Regions from separate parts of the Homo sapiens genome. Here all the other regions are linked to region 3. Evidence: fine-mapped expression QTL. A gene starts in region 3. Each other region holds a variant in brackets. All regions are shown on one strand. Distances are from middle to middle.

The links. PIP is the estimated chance that this variant, and not a neighbour inherited with it, causes the effect.
Region 1: its variant is the best candidate, but not a certain one, in a credible set for the expression of FAM32A in whole blood (INTERVAL, PIP 0.54).
Region 2: its variant is the best candidate, but not a certain one, in a credible set for the expression of FAM32A in adrenal gland (GTEx, PIP 0.69).

The regions. Positions count from the first base shown.
Region 1 is chr19:16,159,332-16,167,507 of GRCh38, reverse strand. CIB3 (calcium and integrin binding family member 3) reads left to right here. Exons shown (of 6, transcript NM_054113.4): 5 at 2,595-2,790; 6 at 6,022-6,140. The coding sequence ends at 6,043. Among named protein-coding and RNA genes, the nearest start is that of CIB3, 10 kb to the left of the region's middle. RefSeq lists an enhancer at 7,141-7,230. The variant C/T (reference allele first, on the strand shown) is at 3,323.
Region 2 is chr19:16,228,505-16,236,666 of GRCh38, reverse strand. AP1M1 (adaptor related protein complex 1 subunit mu 1) reads right to left here. Exons shown (of 12, transcript NM_032493.4): 9 at 7,739-7,897; 10 at 3,049-3,174; 11 at 2,393-2,468; 12 at 1-2,254. The coding sequence ends at 2,232. Among named protein-coding and RNA genes, the nearest start is that of AP1M1, 35 kb to the right of the region's middle. The variant C/T (reference allele first, on the strand shown) is at 3,664.
Region 3 is chr19:16,180,525-16,188,700 of GRCh38, reverse strand. It overlaps FAM32A (family with sequence similarity 32 member A), which reads right to left and starts at 3,291. Exons shown (of 4, transcript NM_014077.4): 1 at 3,185-3,291; 2 at 2,936-3,077. The coding sequence starts at 3,258. RefSeq lists enhancers at 3,697-3,746, 3,649-4,284, 5,508-6,007.

The DNA of each region.
Region 1 (8,176 bases), 21 kb after region 3:
GCCTCTCCCCATTCATCCCCCCATCCCACCATCCTATTTCTCTTCTAGCACCAGGCAATGCTGCTTAATTTCTTGTTCCTTGACCTGTTCACTTCTTATTGACTTTGTCCCTGAGAAGACTCAAAGGTACCAACAGTATCTATTTTGCTCACCACCTGTCATCTGAGCCTGGCTCAGTAAATATTTGTTGAATGACTGAATGAAAGAAAAACAGTTATCTTAGTGCCTGGCACCTTGTGTGCACTCAATAAATACTTGTTTTTTTTGTGTGTGTGTTTTTTTTTTGTGAGACAAAGTCTTGCTCTGTCCCCCAGACTGGAGTGCAGTGACGCGATCTCAGCTCACTGCAACCTCCGTCTTCCGGGTTCAAGCAGTTCTCCTGCCTCAGCCTGCTGAGTAGCTGAGATTGATTACAGGTGCCTGCCACAACGCCTGACTAATTTTTTGTATTTTTAGTAGAGACGGAGTTTCACCATGTTGGCCAGACTGGTCTCGAACTCCTGACCTCAGGTGATCCACCCGCCTCAGCCTCCCAAAGTGCTGGGATTACAGGCATGAACCACCACGCCCAGCCAAATTTTTGTATTTTTAGTAAAGATGGGGTTTCACCATGTTGGCCAGGCTGGTCTTGAACTCCTAACCTCAAGTGATCCACCCACCTCGGCTTCCCAAAGTGGCAGGATTACAGGCATGAGCCACCGTGCCCTGCCACCATAATACTTTTTGAGTGAGTACATGAAAAATAGTTATCATGGTGCCCAACACATAGTAGGTGCTCAATAAATACTTGTTGCATGAATGAATGAATGAAAAAGTTATCAGAGTACCTGGCACACAGTAGACACTAATACTTGTTGAGTGAGTGAATAAAAGAGTTATGGTGCCCAACATGTAGTAGGTGCTCAATAAATACTTCCTGAATGGATGAATGAATGAATGAATAAATGAAAAAGTTATTACAGTGCCTGGTGCACAGTAAGCAGTTAAAAAGTACTTTTTGAGTGAATAGATGAAAAAAGTTATCACAGTGCCCACTACACAGTAGGCACTCAATAAATACTTGTTGAGTGAGTGAATAAATGAAAAACAGATATCATGGTGCTTGATACGTAGTACGTGTTCAAGAAATACTTGAATAAATGAATGAAAGAGCTGTCACAGTGTTTGGCACATAGTAGGCACTCAATAACTATTTTTATTTATTTATTTTTTTACTGAGACAGCGTCTCACTCTTGTCGCCCAGGCTGGAGTGCAATGGCGCGATCTCAGATCACTGCAACTTCCACTCCCTGGGTTCAAGCGATTCTCCTGCCTCAGCCTACCTAGTAGCTGGGATTACAGGCACCCGCACCACGCCCCGCTAATTTTTGTAATTTTAGTAGAGATGGGGTTTCACCATGTTGGCCAGGCTGGCCTGGAACTCCTGACCTTAGGTGATCTACCCATCTCCACCTCCCAAAGTGCTGGGATTACAGGCATGAGCCACTGCGCCGGGCCCATAACTGTTTTTTGAATGAGTAAATGAAAAATTATTATCACAGTGCCAGGACACAGTAGGCACTCAATAAATACTTGTTAAGTGAGTGAATGAATGAAAATTGCACTCAATAAATACTTGTTGAGTGAGTGAGTGAATGAAAATCAGTTACTGTGATGCCTGACACATAGTAGATGCTCAATAAATACTTGTATGAGTGAATAAAAAAGTTATTACAGTGCCTAGCACACAGCAGGCACTCAATGCTTGTAAAAATGAATGAATGAGGTTGGGTGTGGTGGCTTCCACCTGTAATCCTAGCACTTTGGGAGACCGAGGTGGGTGGATCACCTGAGGTCAGGAATTTGAGACCAGCCTGGCCAACATGGGGAATCCCATCTCTACTAAAAACACAAAAATTAGCCGGGCATGGTGGCAGGCACCTGTAATCCCAGCTACTTGGGAGGCTGAGGCAGGAGAATCACTTGAACCCAGGAGGTGGAGGTTGCAGTGAGCCGAGATCGTGCCACTGCACTCCAGCCTGGGCGACAGAGCGAGACTCCGTCTCAAAGAAAAAAAAAAAGAACGAATGAAAAATTCATTGCATAAATACTTGTTGAATGAATGAATGAACTCCCAGCAGGTCCCTGCCCAATTTTAAGGCAAGTTCCAGATTTTACACCAGGGTCTCGGGTGCCCTCCCAGGGCCTCAGTTCCTTTTTTTTTTTTTTTTTTTTGGACGGAGTTTCTGTCTTGCTGCCCAGGCTGGAGTGCAGTGGTGAGATCTTGGCTCACTGCAACCTCCACCTCCCGGGCTCAAGTGATTCTCCTGCCTCAGCCTCCTGAATAGCTGGGATTACAGGTGCATGCCACCACACCTGGGTATTTTTGTATTTTTAGTAGAGATGGGATTTCACCATGTTGGCCAGGCTGGTCTCGAACTCCTGACCTCAGGTGTTCCACCCTCCTCAGCCTCCCAAAGTGTTGGGATTACAGGCGTGAGCCACCGTGCCCGACCTTAGTTTCCCCTTCTTGTAACATGGGCACAGTATGTGCCCACAGCCGGCCTAGCCCTCCTGCCACCTGCTGTCACTCCCCATCCATCCTGCTCTGCAGATTTTAACAACGACGACTACATTTGTGCGTGGGACCTGGAGCAGACGGTGACCAAACTGACGCGGGGGGGGCTGAGTGCCGAGGAGGTGAGCCTGGTATGTGAGAAGGTGCTGGATGAGGCTGATGGAGACCATGATGGGCGGCTGTCCCTGGAAGATTTCCAGAACATGATCCTCCGGGCACCAGACTTCCTCAGGTGATGCTCTCCGTCACCGCCCACAGTCCATTTGCACATCTGAAGGGGCTCTTACGCAGACAGTTCACAGACTCTGTTTCTGAAAATTCCTCTATTCATTCTTTCATGACCTTGGGAAACTTTCTCAATTTCCCTAGTCTCAGTCCCTGCATCTGTAAAATGGGGATAATTAGGGACCCCCTGGGCACCTCTTGCGAGTGGATACACCTCTTTCAGCAAGCAGAATGTGGCTGGACTTCAGCCCTTGTTGCCTGAACAGTTTGCAGTGAACAGACTGTGTAACTGTACTTGGCAGCCTTTGGGGAAAATCAGCCGCCACTGCAGGGCAAAGTACGGCCAATAGGCCAGTCTGACCCAAAGCCTGGTTTTGTACCTCCTGTGAGCTAAGAATGGCTTTTATATTTTCAAAAGATCAAAAAACAATCAAAGAATAATAATATTCCAACCAGGTGGGGTGGTTCATGCCTTTAATCCCAGCACTTTGGGAGGCTAAGTGGGGAGGATCTCTTGACCCCAGGAGCTTGAGACCAAA[C/T]TGGGGAACATAAGGAGAGTCCATATCTACAAATAAATAAATAAATAAATAGCCAGGTATGGTGGTGCATGCCTGTAGTCCCAGCTACTTGGGAGGCTGAGGCGGGAGGATTGCTTGAGCCCAGGAGGTCAAGGCCGCAGTGAGCTCAGATTGTGCCATGCACTCCAGCCTGGGTCACAGAGTGAGATTCTGTCTCAAAAATAAATAAACACATTAAAAATTTTTTTTTAATTTAAAAAAAGATTATTCCATGACACGTGACAGTGATACGAAATTCACTTTTCTGTGTCCATCAGTAAAGTTGTATTGGCTCACAGCCACACCCATTTGTGTACATTTTGTCTATGGCTGCTTGTGTGCTTCAACAACAGAGTTGCGTCATGGTATAAAGTTGAAAACATCAACTATTTGGCCATTTACAGAAAAAGGTTTGCTGAACCCCAAATTAATATATGGAGAAAATTCAGCACAGCTCCTGGCACACAATAGGTGTTTAATAAATTGCTGTTGCTATTATTATCTTATAATTTTTAAATTTCACTTTATTTTTTATTTTTTGAATTGACAAATAATGATTGTACATATTCATGGGGTACACAGTGATGTTTCTTTTTGTTTGTTTGTTTGTTTTGAGACGGAGTCTTGCTCTGTTGCCCAGGCTGGAGTGCAGTGGTGCAATCTCAGCTCACTGCAACTTCCACCTCCTGGGTTCAAGTGATTCTCCTGCCTCAGCCTCCCGAGTAGCTGGGATTACAGGCACGTGCCACCATGCCCAGCTAATTTTTGTATTTTTAGTAGAGACAGGGTTTTGTCATGTTGGCCAGGCTGGTCTTGAACTCCTGACCTCAAGTGATTCACCTACTGTGGCCTCCCAGACTGCTGGGAGTACAAGCGTGAGCCACCACGCCCAGCCCGTTTGTTTGTTTTGAGACAGGGTCTCACTCAGTGACCCAGACTGCAGTGCATGGTGCAATCGGCTCACTGCAGCCTCTAACTCCTCGGCTCAAGAGATCCTCCCACCTCAGCTTCCTAAGTAGCTGGGACTACGGGGCCGAGCGCAGTGGCTCACACCTGTAATCCCAGCATTTTAGGAGGCTGAGGCAGTAGTCTCTACTAAAAATACAAAAATTAGCCTGGGCATGGTGGGGCACACCTCTAGTCCCAGCTACTCGGGAGGCTGAGGCAGGAGAGTAACTTGAACCCGAACCTGGGAGGTGGAGGTTTGCAGTGAGCCACGATTGCGCCACTGTACTCCAGCTTGAGCGAGACTCTGTCTCAAAAAAAAAAAAAAAAAAAAAAGAAAAGAAAAGAAAAAAGAAATAAAATAAGAATAAACCAAGTAGCTGGGACTACAGGTACGTGCCACTGTGCCTGGCTAATTTTGTTTGTTTTATTTTATTAATTAATTAATTTATTTTATTTTATTTTTTTGAGATGGAGTCTCGCTCTGTCACCCAGGATGGAGTGCAGTGGCACGATCTCGGCTCACAGCAACCTCCACCTCGCAGGTTCAAGCACTTCTCCCTGCCTCAGCCTCCCGAGTATCTGGAATTACAGGCGCCCGCCACCACGCCCGGTTAATTTTTGTATTTTTTTAGTAGAGATAAGGTTTCGCCATGTTGGCCAGGCTGGTCTTGAACTCCTGACCTCAGGTGATCTGTCCATCTTGGCCTCCCAAAGTGCTGGGATTACAGGCGTGAGCCGTCATGCCCGGCCTGTTTTTGTTTTTATCTATAAGCTGAGGCAGTGCTGAAAATGTTGAGACAGGGTCTCACTTTGTTGCCCAGGCTGGAGTGCAGTGGCACAATCATAGCTCACTGCAGCCTCTACCTCCTGGGCTCAAGAGCAATCCTCCCACCTCAGCCTCCTGAGTAGCTGGGAGTACGGGCACACACCACCACGCCTAGCTAACTAAAAACTTTTTTTTTTTTTTTTTTTTTTTGTGGAGACAAGGTCTTGCCTTGTTGCCCAGGCTGTTCTCAAACTCCTGGCCTCAACTGATCCTCCTGCCTTGGCCTCCCAAAGTCCTGAGATTACAGGGGTGAGTCACTGCACCAGGCCACATAATGGTTTCGATACATATAATGTATGATGAGCAGATCAGGGTCATTAGCATATCCATCATCTCAAACATGTATCATTTATTTGTGTTGAGAACATTCAGTATCCTTCTTCTAGCTATTTGAAACTTTATATCATATGGCAGGATGTGGTGATTCATGCCTGTAATCCTAGCACTTTGGGAAGCTAAGGTGGGTGGATCGCTTGAGCACAGGAGTTCCAGACCAGCCTGGGCAACAAAGCAAGTTGAGAAACTCCGTTTCTACTGAAAATAGAAAAATTAACTGGGCGTGGTATCATGCACCTGTAATCCTAGCTACTCGGGAGGCTGAGGCATGAGAATCACTTGAACCCAGGAGGCAGAGGTTGCAGTGAGCCAAGATCACACCACTGCACTACAGCCTGGGAGACAGAGCAAGACCCCATCTCAAAAAAAAAAAAAAAAAAAAAAGAATTAAAAAATTAAAGGCATGTGCTCTCAGCCCCTGTAGGGGTCTCCCGGCCTAGGGTTGTTTGAGGGGTCCATGTGGCATCCTTCCTGCCTGTCCCAGGGACTTGCCGTGAGCGTGTTGAGGGGGAGGAGGAAAAGGGGTTGTCCACTCCTTGAAGGCCTTGACTCCTTTTCTCTCTGCACACAGCACCTTCCACATCCGAATCTGATGGCACCACAGAGGAGCCGAGCTATAGGAGGGCGGGGTGACCCCTCACCCGCTGTGGACTCTGGTTTCTGAGAATAAACACAAGTCACTGAGTCACACCTGCTGGGAGGACACATTTTTCCACCTTAAAACTGGAAGATGGGAGGGAGGCGGCGTAGAATTTTATCTTTGACTTTGCTGTGTGACCCTGAGTGTGGCCACACCCTCTCTGGGCCACGATCTCCCTGTTTGTACAAGGAAGGGGTGACTCCTAGATCGTCTTCACTGTGAAGGCTGGAAATGCCTTGTTGTGGGTGTCCGTGGCGGAGGTGAGGTGGTGGGGAGATCGGGCCCGTGCTGTCCTACCCCAGGGTTCCCACTCTGAAGGCCAAACCTCACCCTTCACTACTCAAGTTTCTTTTTATCCCTCAAACCCTGAGTCATCAAAGGGATTGAAACTTTTCCTCCCGGGCTGACTCATTAGAGCTGCCAAGAGGAGACCACTGATTGGGAGGGGTGGAAATGTCATTCACTGAGGTGGCTGCTGCACTTTACAGTTTATGATGCATCTGCCCCCTAACGTGACACTGACCCCCTATAACATCCCTGCAGAGTTGGCCGAGGATCATGCCCTCATTTGGAGGGAGCAGAGTGACTTGCCTAAGGCCACCCCACAAGTCATTTGCAGGGGCGGGCTTGAACCCAGGTGCACCTCATACCAGATCCCAGATGTCTGAACCTTGTACATTTGGGGAACCCCACACCCCCTCCACCTGGGGTTGCCCCAGGGCCCCCATCTATGCCCCAGTCAGTCCAAGGAGTAGTCACTCCTGCAACCAAGACCAGCCCCTAGGGACCTTCCCAGACACCTCCATTGTACAGTATGTCATGTCTAGAGAGCTCACTCCCATCTTAACCCGCTAATAAATTAAGCAGCTACTGGGCTGGGCACGGTGGCTCAAGCCTGTAACCCCAGCATTTGGGAGGCCAAGGTGGGCAGATTGTCTGAGCCCAAGAATTTGAGACCAGCCTCAGCAACGTGGTGAAACCCTGTCTCTACCAAAAATACAAAAATTAGCTGGGTGTGGTGGTGCATGCCTGTAGTCCCAGCTACTTGGGAGGCTGAGGTGGGAGGATCGCTTGAGCCCAGGAAAGGGAAGTTGTAGTGACCAGAGATCGTGCTACTGCACTCCAGCCTGGGCAATAGAGCGAGACTCTGTCCAAAAAAAAAAAAAAAAAGGAGCCAGGCACAGTGGCTCACGCCTGTAATCCCAACACTTTGGGAGGCTGAGGCGGGTAGATCGCCTGAGCCCAGCAATTCGAGACCAGCCTGGGCAGCATGGTGAAACCCTGTCTCTACCAAAAATACAAAAAGTAACTGGATGTGGTGGTGCATTCCTGTAGTCCCAGCTACTCAGGAGGCTGAGGCAGGAGAATCAATTGAACCAGGAGGCAGAGGTTGCAGTGGACCGAGGTCGAACCACTGCACTCCAGCCTGGGCGACAGACCAAAACTCCTCCGTCTCAAAGAAAAAGAAAAAAAAAGAAAAACACCTACTGTGCACCAAAGTCCCAGGTTTTACATGCATTCTGCCAGTTCATCCTGAAGAGGGACTGCTCTTCTCATTTTCCAGGTAAGAAAGTAGGCCCAGAGATGTCTAGACTTGCCAAAGGTCACACAGCCCCACAACCTAGGATTCCCTCCAGAGCCCTCCACCATCATGGCCCTGTGATGCCTCCTCCGTCCCCAGCCTTTTTTTTTTTTGAGATGGAGTCTTGCTCTGTCACCCAGTCTGGAGTCTTGCTCTGTCACCCAGGCTGGAGTGCAGTGGCTTGGTCTTGGCTCACTGCAACCTCCGCCTCCCAGGTTCAAGCGATTCTCCTGCCTCAGTCTCCTGAGTAGCTGGGATTACAGGCGCAAGCCACCATGCCTGGCTAATTTTTGTAGTTTTTAGTAGAGACGGGGTTTCACCATGTTGGCCAGGCTGGTTTTGAACTCCTGACCTCAGGTGATCCACCTGCCTTGGCCTCCCAAAGTGCTGGGATTAGAGGTGTGAGCCACTGCGTCCGGCCAGCTTTTTCTTTCTTTTTTTTTTTTTTCTTTTCTGAGACAAGGTCTCTCTCTGTTGCTCAGGCTGAAGTGGGGTGATCATGAC
Region 2 (8,162 bases), 48 kb before region 3:
CTCAGGCAGAGAGAGGACACAGTGCTTATTCTCAGGGGTGGAGGGCAAATGTTTTTTCTAGTCCATCTTTTTACTGTTAAGTATCATGACCCTCGAGGATCCCAGCTTCACGCAGGAGTCATCTCCACTGCATTTCACCATCTTCCCGATGCCCAAAGTCCTATCTGCCACCTGGCCCCCAAACCTAAACCCGGTGGTTTCCAAGAGCAACTCCGGTGTGAGCCCCCACGGTGTCTTCCGCGTCTACTTCCTTCGTCTTGGGCTCCTGTGGGTCTCCTTGCTTTTTTATGGGCACGGCTAGGTGCGTCTGCTTCATTTCCTGCATTTCTACAGTCTGTAGTGGAGGGTTTGCAGGTCTTATCTGATAAGTTGCTGGAAACTGAAGTCTCTCTTCTGTCCTGTGGACCAGCCCTCTCCTGTCCCTGCGGTGTCCCAGCATGGGGGCTCCACAGGGTGGGGACAGTGACAGCCCACACTGGAGCTAGGCCCCGGGGGTGGCAGCGAGGATGGCAAATGGGGTCAGCCCCAGGGTTTTCTGGAGGGGCCATGAGGGCTGGCTGCTGATATGGGTGTGGACAGTGAGGGGAGGGGCCCCAGGGATGCCTTCAGGGCTTTGGTCTGAGGCCTGGGCTGGGGCAGCGTCATTGACTGAGATGGGGAAGACCTACGTGGGCGGAAGGTTCTACTCAGGCTGTTAGGTCGGATGCCCACTAGACACCTGAGGACGAGCTCGGCAAGACAGGAGAGGGAGGGGGAGAATGAAGGCAAGAGGGTGCTGGCCAGGCAGGGCCATCAGCACTGGTCGGGGAGGGGGCCAAGAGCAGGCAGCACTTCCTGCATATGTGCTATTTCCCCCATGGACCAAGTAGCAGTTCACAGAAGAAGCATCTGGGGGCCTTGTTAATGTTTTCCGGGACCCTGGCCCCAGAGCCTCCACTTTGGCAGGTCAGGGCTGGCCCACGAACCTGCATTTCTAGCTAGGACACAGGGGATGCTGCTGTGGACACAAGGACCATGCTCTGAGTGGGCCATCAGTTTGGGGAGAGGTGGGGACAAGCTGTTGGCCATCTGAGGGTGCAGCAGATTGGATGAGAGAAGACTCTGCCTCTGTGGCCTCCTCTGTGTGGCCCAGGAGTGGTGGCCCATGGTCCAGCACTGCAGCTGCCTCTTCCCGCAGCTGCTTTTCCTGTGTTTCAGCTGGGGAAGCAGAGGGAGCTGGTGACACCTCGTGGGGCCACAGGGAAGGTCGGCGACAAAACCAGGCAAGCCCTGTGGTCACGCAGGAGGAGTTGGGACCACGCTGCATCAGAGGAAGGCTGTGGAGTATTCAATGAATGGAATTTAATGTAACTATGACATAAACACACACAGGGTGGGGAGGACGGGTGACCAAGCGCAGACGTGGGTGACACGTGGCCCCGCTCTCTGGACCCTCAGTGGGAAAAAGTCTGAGGCTGGCGTCTCTCACCAAACCCCACCTCCCCTGGTGGGTCAATACTGATCTGGCTGAGTGACAGCATCTCGTGACCCAGGCTGGCCCTGGGAAGGCGCCACAGGCGAGGCCTGCGAGTCCAGGGAGCAGGCAGACGCTACAGTGGCCCCCGAGCGCGCCAGGTGCCAGCCTCGACGTGTAAATGGCCCGCTGCGGGCGCTGCCGGGAAGGAAGACAAGAAGGGTGAGGGCTCGTCCTCACCAAGTGCTTCCTGAGTGCCGTAGGACGTGGGTGGGACATGGGGACAGTGAGGGTAACACAAACAGCAACGAATGCACAAAGACAAGTTCCAGGAACACCCATAAACCCATAACGTTCAACAAAATGGCAACAAAACGACGCCCCTGCTGGCCTGGCGAGGCTGGCGCTTCCTTCGTGGCAGATGCCACCTGCAGCTGGCTGGCTGGCAAGCGTTGGCCAAGCTTTTTGGTACCTGGGAGCTCAACAGCATAAAAGGCTGTAACCTCTACACGGAAAAATTTCACATCCTTCCCCTGAAACTGACTTCAGGGGCAAAGAAACGAGACTTCTTGAAGACCAGCCTCTTCTGGGAAAGGGGCTTCTGAGACGAGTGTCGACGGCAGAGCAGATGGCCTGGGGAAGGCAGGGGTCCCTGGGCAGAGGCTGGGAGGGTGGCCAGAGACCAGGGAGGGCCCCTCCATCTGGTGGGTTTGGCAGGTGTGTCCCCTGGTGCTGCCACCAGGAGCCCCGAGGCCGGGGTGTTGGCTGCGACAGCCCCTCACTGGGTCCGGAGCTGGTAATCTAGGAGACAGGAGGGAGGCGTCATGCTGGGCTCTGCACCCTCCCTGCTTTCGGGACCCGACCCGATGGCTCCACCCTGGGGGCAGCCACAGAGGACCCCTCAGTACAACCCCACCCCACGGGTAGGGCCTCACTCACCTCCATTCTGCGTGATATAACGCACCCAGGGCAGGGCCTGGTACCCACTCTTCTCAATGATCTTCAGGTAGCGCACCTGGGGCACAGGTAGCAGGGCCCTGAGCACCGCAGGCTCCCGCCCTGTTGGTCCCCCCTTAATCTTTCCTGCTGGGGCAGCCTGGGGCTGGCAGGGGAGGCCATGACGACAGGATGAGCACAGGCCTCAGGGGGGTGAAAGGGATTTGTCTGGACCATGCAAATGTGTGGGAGGGCAGAGCCGCCTCTGGAAGTGGTGAGCAGCCAGGATGTGGCTTGCAGACACGGCCTCAGCAGCCTGCTTGGGGGGCCCGGCCAGAAGGCCCCTGGCTCTCTGGGAGCCTCTCCTCCCTCTGTGGGCTTTTGAGGGGGTGCCAGGGAAAAGAGGTCCCATGGGGCATGAGTGGACGGCAGAGCCTCAAATGCTAGTTTGGGGCAGAATGAGTGAGCTTTGAGCTCAGGGGTCAGGGCTGAGCAGAGGCAGCCTGGCCTCACCCTGTCTGTGGGGAGGCAGAGGCCCACAGCACAGCAGGGTCCTGATTGCAGCTGACTGACACCCTTTCCCAAGCTGGCTGCATTGATATCTGTCACCTGCGGCCTCTGTCCCTGTTCTGGGCCCCGGCCGCCTGGGCCTTACGTACCTGGATGCCGGAGGTAGTGAAGTAAGGGATCTCGAACTTGACACTGATCGGGGGCTTGCCCTCCTTGTCTTCGGCCTCCACACTAGGCAGGCCGAAGTGGGCCCGCATCAGGTACTCCTTGCCGCCCTGGGGAGCAGACGGGGGAGGCGCTCAGGCCTAGGCCCTGCCCCAGCTTAGCCAACAGCTCTGGCCCTAGTGGCGATGGGCAGAGACTGACCACTCACCCCAGTCCAGGGAGGGGAGCATGAGCCCCTGTGCTGGGGAGCCAAAGCTCGGCCCTGTGCTGCCCCAGGCTGGTAAGGACAGCCCCTGCTCTGGGGTGCCCAGCTGCCCCATGAGGATACCCAGGCGCCCAGAGCTGAGCTCACCAAGCTGCCAGCCCCAGTCACCAAGCCCCTGCCAGTGTGGTCTGCAGTGGCCCAGCACCCCCCGCCCAGCTCCCCTAATGCACTTTCCTCCAAGGCTGGTGAACTAGACAGACCGGCCATGGGAAGGAAGAGTGTGTAATGACCGTGGCAGGGGAGGGCTGCTGGGGACAGGGGCCACACGCCCAGTCTCAGAACAGCATGTGAAAGAAAAGAGAGTGTCCAGGTGAGAACCATGACCAGGGAGAGG[C/T]GACAAAAGGAAGAAACCAAGGAGCATGCACTGAGTGACGATTCAGCCCTGGGTCCTGCTCCTGAGGGTGAGCAGGGGGTGGCTGTGGCTCTGACTGGAACCCGAGTCCTGGCTGTGACCTTCACCCTCTCTCTGCCTTGAGGAGCAACAGGTTGCAGCCTGGTCACCCCCAGCGCCTGGTCTCGCCCTGAGCAGTCGGGGGCACGATCTCAGCTCTGGCTGTGCCTGGGACCCCACAGTCTCTGCTCCCCAGGGCTCAGGCCGAGGTTCCGTGGGAGCTACTGCCGCCTAGGGCTGTTTCTGCCTCACAGCAGGGGCGGTCCCCGTGCACCTGGGGCAGGGCCGAGTGGTTCATCTCTGCCTACTGCCACCAGGGCAGCGTGAGAGTGAGGACTCTGCCTGACTTGGTGACATGTGCTGAGTACAGACTCCAGGAGGATGACGGGGGGAAGATGCGACATCAGCAACTGGTAAAGCAGGCAGCGAGGGAACAAACCCGCTCGGTGACTAGCCTGTGCCCCAAACACTCAGCCAGACCCCAAATCTGAACCTTAGCAAAGACCAAATGGAAAACACAAACAAAGAAAATGCAGGGAAGCAGACGCCAGGGGCGATGGAGGCCTGCACACCCAGCCTGTGTCGTCACGTTGAGCCGAGTGGGTTTAATTCTGCTCTCGATGAGAGCTGTAGGCTGGCGCCGGCTCACACACCAAAACCCACTCGACGCCACAAAGGCACAGTGAGAAGGGCTCCCCGGGTAGGAAGAACAGGCATTGACAGGCGTGCTGCCAAAGGCAGACAAAAGAGGACAGGGCTGCCATCATCACAAGGGAGAAAGGTGCACAGGAGGACAGGCCACAATCCTAGAGGCTGCCGTCCCATAAGCCACAGGGACAACACAATAGTCACAGGTACCCACGCATGAAGTAACATGGCAGCAACTTCTGTGAAGCAGGTGCTATAGGAGATGCAGAGAGAGCCAGGAGAAGGCCTGGACGCAAGGCCCGGCCCAGATCTCCATCCAGGTGGACAGTGTCATGTGCCATGGCCACCCATGGGCACATATCAAATTCCCTAACCTGGTAACAGACAGCAGTAGGGACAGGACTGAGAAACACTCTAGGTTTAAAAGCAAATAGCCTACACTATGGCACTTCCACAAAAAGTTGAAAATAGAATCACCATATGATCCAGCAATTCCACTTCTGGGGATACACCCAAAACAAATGGAAGCTGGATCTTGAAGAGGTATTTGTGCACTCGTTCACAGCAGCATTATTCACAATAGGCCAGGCATGGTGGCTCACGCCTGTCATCCCAGTGCTTTGGGAGGCCGAAGCAGGCAGATCACCTGAGACCAGCCTGAGCAACAATAGCGAAACCCTGTTTCTACTAAAAATACACAAATTAGCTGGGTGTGGTGGCATGTGCCTGTAATCTTAGCTACTTGGGAGGCTGAGGCAGGAGAATCGCTTGAACCCGGGAGGTGGAGTTGCAGCAAGCCGAGATCATGCCTCTGCAGTAAGCCGAGATCGTGCCTCTGCACTCCAGCCTGGGCAACAGAGTGAGACTTCATCTCAGAAACAAAAAAAACTAACCTAAAAAAAAAAAAACTTTTAGTATGGAGCAATCTAAGAAAGGGGGAAGGATATCTATCTATCTATCTAATCTGTATTTCTAATCTCTCTCTGTGTTTTTTTTTTTTTTTTTTTTTTTGAGACAGAGTCTTGCTCTGTTGCCCAGGCTGGAGTGCAGTGGTGCAATCTTGGCTCACTGCAAGCTCCGCCTCCCGAGTTCACACCATTCTCCCACCTCAGCCTCCCGAGTAGCTGGGACTACAGGCACCCACCACCACACCCGGCTAATTTTTTGTATTTTTAGTAGAGACGGGGTTTCACCATGTTAGCCAGGATGGTCTTGATCTCCTGACCTTGTGATCCGCCCGCCTCAGCCTCCGAAAGTGCTGGGATTACAGGCGTGAGCCACAGCGCCTGGCCCTCTCTGTATTTCTTAAAATTTATTTTTTGCAGTTCCTTTTGTCCTTAGGGTGTGTTATTTGAAGTGACGTGTCTCTGTGGTTGTCATCAACTTGATACGCTGATGAATTAATTTTGCTTTTGGTTTTTAGGAATTACCTTTTTTCCATTGTGATTTAATTTTGTTTTCTATGCATGGGAAGCACTGACAGGTGTACCTTCACACAGTGCAGGTTTGGTTCCAGACCACTGCCATAAAGCACATAGCACAGTTAGGCAAGTCACACACATTTTTTGGTTTCCCAGTGCATGTAAAAGTTACGTTTACCAGCCGGGCACGGTGGCCCACACCTGTAATCTCAGCACTTTGGGAGGCTGAGTCAGGCGGATCACAAGGTCAGGAGTTCGTCACCAGCTTGGCCAACATGGTGAAACCCCGTCTCTATTAAAAATACAAAAATTAGCCAGGCGTGGTGACACATGCCTGTAATCCCAGCTGCTCAGGACGCTGAGGCAGGAGAATCACTTGAACCTGGGAGGCACAGGTTGCAGTGAGCCGAGATTGTGCCACTGCACTCCAGCCTAGGCGACAGAGCGAGACTCCGTCTCAAAAAAAAAAAAAAGGTTACCGTATACTGTAGTCTGAATGTGCAACAGTATTATGTCTAGGAGAATGTACATACCTTAGTTAAAACATACTTTATTGCTAAAAAGTGACAACACAGAGACCACATGCTGTTGGAATAATGACATCAACAGACTTGCTCAACGCAGGGTTGCCACAAACCTTCCATTTGTTTAAAAACTAAAACAAAAATAAAAATGCAGTATCTGGGAAGCACAATAAAATGAGGTGTGCCTGTGCATGGCTTCGAAGTAAAATCTACACAAGCACAGTCCACGCCAGCCTGTGTCTCGGCCCTTAGCCCTGTCCCTTCCTCCCCCGTCTACAGCTCACCATGCTGTTTATTTGATGAAGTATTCTCCCAGTGTGTTTTAAATGATAAACACTATTTTCAACAGTGGAATTGCAGGAAAAGAGGAGCTAATCCAACTATCCGGGATGGTCACCACCCCTCCATGGAATATCCACAGCTCCCAAAGGTGACCGCCAAGAAGACAGTCAATACCAGAAGGAAAACGCTCTGCCGCAGCGCCACGTGGAAGGGCAGGCACTGAGCTGGCTCTACTTGCACATAATGAGGAAAAGCAAAATACGCAGAAAGAAAGGTGAGGAGACACGCGGAAAGGCTGACGGGAGTATTAGGTGGTGGGGTAACTGGCTTTTCTCTCTCCTTCCTCTACTTTCTGTATTTTATGTCATGTGATTAGACTGAGGCTGGGAGGGAAAGTACCATCATGAAATTCAAGGCACTTGAATTGCAGCATTTCCAGCTTAACTCAGCTGGGGCTGTCCCCAAGTCCCCCTGGGATGCAGATGGAGAGAGAGGGGAGAACATGGAAAGCAGCGCCTGCCCTGAGCCCCCCTGGTGGAGCAGGTCAGTGCCACCCGGCTCAGCTCCAGAGCCATGCCTGGGCCTAGCCTCTCTGTGCACTGTGTACACCCGGCAAGCCCAGACTCAGCTCCTCAGAATCCTTAACATGTTGTCAGGGAAGCCACGCCGATGCAGAGCTGGCCCAGGACATGGGCGGCTGGTGCGGAGCTCTGGAGGCTGTGCTGCTCCGGCCTACAGGCAGCCGTTCCCCTTGATGGCAGGCAAGGCTGAGCCTGCACAGAAAGGGCCTTGGACCTGCCAGTGTGGACGGGGCTCCTTCAGGGCCTGCATGGACAGGAGCCCCATCTCACATCAGTACTCAGGGGCATCACAGAGAGGGAGGGAGAGGGCACTGCCCTGAGGTGAAGACAGAGGCTGGTTCACAAACAAGAGGAAGGCAGAAAGGGGCCCAGGGGCCGAGTCAGCCTCTGCTTCCTCCCACTCCAGTCCTCAGCTCTCCGTCCACCCTTTCAGAAGCCCCAGGTGTGGAAGACACAGTGGCCACTGTCACCCCATCTTGAGGTGCAGGGGGTCCTGAGGCACCCAGGCTGCCTTGCAGAGACAGGCGCAGGGGGCACGTGGATGTCTGGACAGAGTGCTCACCGGGAAGGACTTGATGGACCACACGATCTCGCTGTTCTCGGGGACCCACTTAACGCTCCCCACCGTCGTCTTGAACTTGGGTGAGTCGGCATCATTGGGCACGGGAATGTGGATCTCCACGTTGTTGGCTGTTGACCGCCGCTTGAACTGGCTTTTGGCCTGCAGGCCAGGCCAATGCGGCCCGGGGTTATGGAGGCCAAGGTGAGCTGGCCAGCCTCTCCAGGACACATGCCCCTCAGCCTGGCCCGGGGGATCCTCCCTAGCCCCGCCCCTGGCCCCACTTCTCCAGGCACTACCCACCCCTTCTCCTGCCCTCGAGACTCTCCCAAGACCTAATTTCAGGAGTTTCATCTTCATCCTCCTGTCTGCTCAGCTTCCAAGGCTCCTCATCCCTCCCTCTGCCCTGCCCTCCTAGGACAATGTC
Region 3 (8,176 bases):
AGCCTGTGTCTCCCTGTGAGAAGCCACACTGACTTGTCCAGCTGCCACACAATGCCAGGCACCTGGCTGGGCTCTGCCCACAGGCGTGACACCCAGCTACTATTTTAGTTTTTGAAGAGACAGGGTATCGCTATGTTGCCCAGGCTAGTCCTGAACTCCTGGGCTCAACTGATCTTCCCACATCGGCCTCCCAAAATGTTGGGATTACAGGCATGAGCCACTGTGCCTGGCTGACTCCACTTGGATTTCTACTGGGGCACTGCATTTACCTTCTTTAAAACTATAGCTTTGGTTCCCCCTCCCTCAACTCCCACTCCAGAAAACCTGCTTTACCTGCAATCCTTCCCACCCCAGTAAACAGCACCTTCATTCATCAAACTGCCCAGCCCAAAGTCTTGGTCATCCTTGACTCTTCTTTCTTTCCCAGCTTACATCCAACCCAACAGCTAACCCTGAATTCATCCTTGAAAACCTATTCCAAACCTGTTACCTTCCACTGGCTCCATCACGACTGCTCTACTCTGAGCTCCCATTATTAGTCTCTTAATAGCTGCCTAAGTCTCGCATAAGTCTCATTCTGGCTTCCAGCAATAAAATCTCAGCCCTGCCTCTGACTACAACCTCAGGGTTAGAAGGGAAAGAAATGCATTTACTTGGCCAGGCATGGTGGTTCACGCCTGTAATCCCAGCACTTTGGGAGGCTGAGGCGGGTGAATCACTTGAGGTCAGGAGAGCGAGACCAGCCTGGCCAACATGGTGAAACCCCGTCTCTACTAAAAATACAAAAATTAGCTGGGCATGGTGGTGGGCGCCTGTAGTCCCAGCTACTCAGGAGGCTAAGGCAGGAGAATCGCTTGAACCCAGGAGGCAGAGGTTGCAGTGAGCTGAGATCATACCAATGCACTCCAGCCTGGACAACAGAGCGAGGCTTTTTCAAAAAATTAAAAAAAGGCCGGGCGTGGTGGCTCACGCCTGTAATCCCAGCAATTTGGGAGGCTGAAGCAGGCGGATCACCTGAGGTCAGGGGTTCAAGAACAGCCTGGCTAACGTGGTGGAACTCCATCTCTACTAAAAATACAAAAAAATTAGATGGGCGTCGTGGCAGGCGCCTGTAATCCCAGCTACTCAGGAGGCTGAGGCAGGAGAATCGCTTGAACCCCGGAGGCGGAGGTTGCAGTGAGCCGAGATCGAGCCACTGCATTCCAGCCTCGGTGACAGAGCCAGACTGAGTCTCACTGAGACGGAGTCTCACTCTGTTGCCAGCCTGGAGTGCAGTGACGTGATCTCGGCTCGCTGCAACCTCTGCCTCCCGGGTACTGGTTCAAGCAATCCTCCTGCCTCAGCCTCCCAAGTAGCTGGGATTACAGGTGTGTGCCACCATGCCCGGCTAATTTTTGTATTTTTAGTAGAGACAGGGTTTCACCATGTTGGCCAGGCTGGTCTTGAACTCCTGACTTCGTGATCCGCCCGCCTGACTTGTTAAATCCTTACCACAACCCTGTGAGGCAGACTTTAGTGCTACTTTAAGTAATAGGTAGCCGGCTTGCCCAGGGTCACACCACTAATTTGTGGTAGAGGCAGAGTCAAACTCAGGTCTGTCATGCCAGAGGTAGTGCATCCATGTGTTTTCTGTATGCCTGAATTAGATCTGGGAGTAAGGAGTTAATTGTCCCCAAGGTCCATTTTCCCCAGTGTCACCGTACAGAATCACCTAGACCAGGGTTAGGGTTTCTCAGCCTCAGTGCTACTGACATTTGGAGCCGGATCACTCTTTGCTGCGGCAGGCTGTCCTGTGTATCGCAGGGTGTGTGGTGTCATCCCTGGCCTCTAGCCACTAGTTGCCAGTAGTCCCCACCCCAACCCAGTTGAGAACCAAAAATGTTTCCAGACATTGCCACATGTGCTTCGGGGTGGGAGTTTAGGGGGGTGGAGACTACCCCCAGGTGAGAATCACTGACCTACACTGATTATTCCCTCTCCCCAGCATAATGGACCCAGTTTCTGTCTTACTGTGAACTCTTCTGTTCTCCACTGCACACATTTATGGTGTTAAGAAAAAATAATTTATCGGAGCCTTATAATACAATACAAACAAAGTCGTCATGGGCATGGCCATTCAATATCAACAGCTGAGACTGGGTGCGGTGGCTCACGCCTGTAATCCCAGCACTTTGGGAAGCTGAGGCGGGCGGATCACTTGAGATCAGAAGTTCGAGATCAGCCTGGCCAACATGGTGAAACCGCATCTCTACGAAAAATACCAAAATTAGCCAGGTGTGGTGGCGGGCGCCTGCAATCCCAGCTACTCGGGAGGCTGAGGCAGGAGAATTGCTTGAACCCCGGAGGCAGAGGCTGCAGTGCTCTGACCCCGCCAAAAATAACTAATTTTTTAAAAAATACAGCATGTTTGAATCTGCCAAACAAAGTTGTCTTGGAAACAAACTTTGTGGTGACTTCGAGCGGCGAGCATGGCCATTTAATATCAAGAGCTGGCATCCACTGAACATGTATGCACTGCTTTTTACTTTCATGACTTCCTCTCAAGTTCCCAACCCTCTTAGAATAAGTTACTACCCTGACTCGTACAGAAGAGGAAACTTGAGGCACGGAAATAAGAAAGTCACTGGCCTAGTGTCGCAGGGCAAATAAGCCACAGCACTGGAATCCAAACCCGGGTCTCCAGCTCTGGCCTCCTTTCAACGCCAGTTCTAGCTCTCCCCTCTGCTGCCCACTCGGGCCAGCGGGGTCTTCTCATCCTTGGAGCTCCCCCGGCAGAGGGCGACTCTTCTCTCACTCACGTACAGCATCCTCTCCCCGTAATTAAGGTCTCCTCTGACCGCTCCCCTGCCCTCGGAGCGTCCCAGCCCTGACCCCAATTTCCAGTCTCCCGGCGCCGGGTGTTCCCGCCTCCCCGCCGCCTTCTGCTTCTGCTCACCCGCTTCTCCTGCATTTTCTCGAAGGCCGCCTGGGCCGGGGTCCGCTTGTCCAGGCCGCGCCGCTTCTCCTCCTCGTTCTTTTTGCTCGTTCCCATTGCTTCCAGGAGTTTCGCTTTGTCTTTGTCCTTCTTTTTCTTCTTCCTGGAAAAAGACATGAGGAGGCGGCGGGTCGGAGGATCAGGGCCAGGGGTCCCGAGAAAAGGTCTAAGGGGGATGAAGACGGAATCCCGCGGGCCCTCGGGCCTCACCGCTTGGTCACTCCCAGCTCTGCGACGCCTTTCAGCTTCAGGGGTCCCTTTTGGACCTGCTCGTAGGCCTCCATGACACTCTCCAGTGCTTCGGTAGCTGGAGTGCCACACTTCCTGTTTGCAAACACTATTTCCGCCCGAATGGCCGCCTCGCTTCTCTTTGATTGGCTGAGCTACAAGGTGAGCATGCGCTCTTGGTTCTGGACCCGGGCCACACTTCCGGGTAGTGGGCGGGACAGAGAGCCAAGCGAATGAGTGCCCTTCGATTCCTATCTGCTGCCACACTTCCGAATTTGGCGCCCACTTCCGGTCTCCCATTCTTCACACAGGGTGCTGGAAACCCAACCCCTTTTTGAGCGTTTTGCGCACTTTTGGGTGACCTGTTCTCTCTCCTTGATTTTTTTTTCTTTTTTAGAGACACGATCTTGGTCTGTCACCTAGGCTGGAGTGGAGTGGCGCGATCGTGGCTCACTGCAGCCTTGAACCCTTGGGCTCAAGAGATCCTCCCGCCTCAGCCTCCCCAGTAGCAGACTGCAGACGGGCGCCACTGAGCGCGGCTAATATTTTCATTTAAATTTTTTTGTCGAGATGGGGTCTCGCTGTGTTGTCCAGGCTGGTCTCGAACTCGTGGGTTCAAGTGATCCTCCTGCTTCGGCCTTCCAAAGCGCAGGGATCACAGGCCTGAGCCACGCCCCACCACCCCCGTTCTCTTTTATTGCCATATTTTGAGCGTTCACTGGATAGCTGAACCTAATTTTGTAAACCTAATCAGTATTCATTAATTTTTCAGCTTTAGGTAAATGACAATATCATGTGACAAGGTTGGTGGTATGTTAAAACAATTAAAAATCTATTTTATGCCGGGCGCGGTGGCTCACGCCTGTAATCCCAGCACTTTGGGAAAACGAGGTGGGCGGATCACGAGGTCAGGAGATGGAGACCATTCTGGCTAACACGGTGAAACCCCGTCTCTACTAAAAATACAAAAAATTACCTGGGCGTGGTGGCGGGCGCCTGTAGTCTCAGCTACTCGGGAGGCTGAGGCAGGAGAATCGCTTGAACCCGGGAGGCGGAGGTTGCAGTGAGCTGAAATCACACCACTGCACTCCAGCCTGGGCGACAGAGAGAGACTCCATCTCAAAAAAAAAGTACATATATATTTAAATCAGCACTTTGGGAGACCAAGGTAGGCGGTTCACGTGAGGTCAGGTGTTGGAAACCAGCGTGGCCAACATGGCGAAACCCTGTATCTACTAAAACAAAACAAAACAAAACACAAAAAGCAAAAATTAGCTGGGCATAGTAGCCTGCGCTTGTAGTCTCAGCTACTTGGTAGGCTGAGGCAGGAGAAGCGCTTGAACCCGGGAGTCGGAGGTTGCAGTGAGCCAAAATCGCACCACTGCACTCCAGCCTGGTCAACAGACAAAGACTCCGTCTCAAAAAAAAAAAAAAAAAAAAAAAATCAATAGAGATAGGGTATTGCTGTGTTGTCCAGGTTGGTCTCAAACTCCTGTCCTCAAGCAGTCCTCCTGAAGCATTAGAATTACAGGCGTGAGCCACCACCCCTGGCCCTTTCTTTCTTTCTTTTCATCCTTTCAGTACTGTGCGGTTTTCTTACATACGATGTGTACATGCATATATCTTTTTTTTTTTTTTTGAGACAGAGTCTCGCTCTGTTGCCCAGGCTGGAATGCAGTGGCACGATTTTGGCTCACTGCAACTTCCACCTCCCAGGTTCAAGAGATTCTCCTGCTTCAGCCTCCTGAGTAGCTGGGATTACAGGCGCCCACCACCATGCCCCGCTAATTTTTGTATTTTTAGTAGAGATAGGGTTTTGCCATGTTGTCCAGGCTGGTTTCGAACTCCTGAACTCAGGTGATCCGCCTGCCTCAGCCTCCCAAAGTGCTGGGATTACAGGCGTGAGCCACCGTGCCCGGCCCTTGAATATATCTTTTTAATGTCAGCAGAGGACTATCGGAATTTTTGGTTTCTTCTCTATTTCCCTCTGTATCAAAAACCTAGTAAAAAAAAAAACTATTATGGGAAAAATTTAAAAAGGCTGTGCCTACCAAGTATCTGTGAAGATGTGTTGAAACTGGAACTCAAACGTGCTGCTGTTGTGAATGTAAAATGGCATAAACAGTTTAGAAATCAGTCTGACAGTTCTTTAAAAGATTAAGCATTCACTTATACTATGACAAAAGAATTAGATTCCTACGTTTTAACCCAAGTGAAATGAAAGTATAGACCCATATAAAATTGTGTAAATGAATGTTCACTGCAGATTTATTTGTAATAGCCAACAAATTAGAAACAGCCCTAATACTGCCCTAGATAAATGAATGAACACAATCCGTGCCCACAAATCTTGGCTGACTTTTGCAACCAATGGAATTACTAGGTCCAAGGTTATGCACGTTTGCACGTTTTATTTCTCATAGATTTTGTCCAAATTGTGCCAGGGTGGCTTTTTTTTTTTAATTGCTGGCGGGGGGTGGGGTAGTGGGGAGAAGGCAAAGGAGGTGGAGAAGAGAGAAGCAAACGTCCCCAAATCTACCGGACACAAGAAAAAGGAGGGCACAGGGGCTGCCTTTCTCAGTCTTACCTGCAGGGGGCAGCAAGTCACTGCCTAATTATCCGTCCACACCTGGAAAAGACTGTGCAGAGGGGCTTCTGGTACCAGGGGATGGGGGCTGCCAGCACTTTTGTGTCAAAAGCAAGGCGATCTTTTTGCCGGGCGCGGTGGCTCACACCTGTAATCCCAGCACTTTGGGAGGCCGAGGCGGGCGGCTCACGAGGTCAGGAGATGGAGACCATCTTGGCCAACATGGTGAAACCCCGTCTCTACTAAAAATAAAAAAAATTAGCCGGGCGTGGTGGCGCGAGCCTGTAATCCCAGCTGCTCAGGAGGCTTGAGGCGGAGAATCACTTGAACCCGGGAGGCGGAGGTTGCAGTGAGCGGAGATCGTGCCACTGCACTCCGCCCTGGCGACAGAGCAAGACTCCGTCTCAAAAAAAAAAAAAAAAAAAAAAAAGAAAAGAAAAAAATTAGCCGGATGTGGCGGGGCACACCTGCGGTCTCAGCTCCTCGGGAGGCTAAGGCAGGAGGATCACTTGAGCCTGGGTGTAGGTGTTCGAGGGTGCAGTGATTTAGGATCTTGATTGATGCACTCTAGCTTGGGCACTAGAGCAAGACCCTATCTCAAAAAAAAAAAAAAAAAAAAAAAGGAAAAGAAAATGATTATGTTGAGTCTTGAATACAAATTAAAAAAAAACTACAAAAAAAGAAAAAGAAATAGTAACGTGCCAATGTTAAATTCTTAGTAGTGCTAAATATGCTGTGGTTGTGTAAGATGTTAACATTAGAGCCGGGCTCAGTGGCTCACACCTGTAATCCCAGCACTTTGGGAGCCGAGGCGGGTGGATCATTTGAAGTCAGGAGTTTGAGACTAGCCTGGCCAACATGATGAAACTGCGCCTCTACTGAAAATACAAAAATTAGCCAGGCGTAGTGACGCACACCTGTAGCCCCAGCTACTGGGTAGGCTGAGGCAGGAGAATCGCTTGAACCCAGGAGGCAGAGGTTGCAGTGAGCCGAGATTTTGCCATTTGCTATTTCACTCCAGCGTGGGTGACACGGTGAGACTACATCTCAAAAATAAATAAATAAATAAATAACAAAAAAAAAAAACCATTAGAGGAAGCAGGTCAAAAGGGTTATGGGAGCTGTCTGTATCATCCTTGCACTTAAATTAAATTAGTTAATTTGTTTATTGAAATGGAGTCTCACTCTGTCACCCAGGCTGGAGTGCAGTGGCACGATCTTGGCTCACTGCAACCTCGACCTCCCAGGTTCAGGCAATTCTCCTGCCTCAGCCCCTGCAGTAGGTGGGATTACACACATGTGCCACCACATCCGGCTATTTTTTTTTTTTTTTTTTGAGACAGAGTCTTGCTCTGTCATCCAGGCCGGAGTGCAGCAGCGCGATCTCGCTTACTACAACCTCTGCCTCCCAGGTTCAAGCGATTCTCCTGCCTCAGCCTCCCGAGTAGCTGGGACTACAGGCACATACCACCACGTATGGCTAATTTTTTGTATTTTTAGTAGAAATGGGGTTTCTCCATGTTGGCCAGGCTGGTCTCGAACTCCTGACCTCAAGTGATCTGCCTGCCTTTGCCTCCCAAAGTTCAGGGATTACAGGTGTGAGCCACTGCGCCCAGCCCATCCTTGCAATTTTAATGTAAATTTAAAATTATTTCAAAACTAAAAGTTTATTAGGAAAAGAAAGAGGCTGGGCATGGTGGCTCATGCCTGTAATCCCAGCACCTTGGGATGCTGAGGCGGGTGGTTCCCCTGAGGTCAGGAGTTCAAGAACAGCTTGGCCAACATGGCGAAACTCTGTGTCTACTGAAAATACAAAAATTAGCCAGGCGTGGTGGCAGGCGCCTGTAATCCCAGCTACTCGGGAGGCTGAGGCAGGAGAATCACCTGAACTTGGGAGGCGGAAGTTGCAGTGAGCCGAGGTCACACTACTGTACTCTAGCCTGAGTGACAGAGCAAGACTGCAAGACTCCATCTCCAAAAAAAAAAAAAGGGAAAAGAAAGAATCTGTAAAGGAATTAAGTGAGGGTGGGGCTTGACTTTCTAGCCAGCTTTGCAATAATGTCAGGCTTGCTGAGTGAGCTCCCACTTCAGGAATGTAGCTAAGCGCATGGGATTCCACACCCCCATTCCTCACATCCTAGGGGATTTTCTTCCTAGCCTCTGCCTCCATTCTGTGAGTTTTGAAGCGGATGCTTTTAATGGGTGTGCATGTATAGGCAATGAGAATGCTCCAACAGTACTTTCGAGATGCATCTTGATTTTGGAGGTATTAAAATGTGAAACAAAATGTGTTTAAATGGAGGGGAAGTAATTTTTTTAATTAAACTTTTAATTTGAAATAATTGAAGGCTCACATGCAGTTTTAAGAAATAAACAGAGGCGAGGCA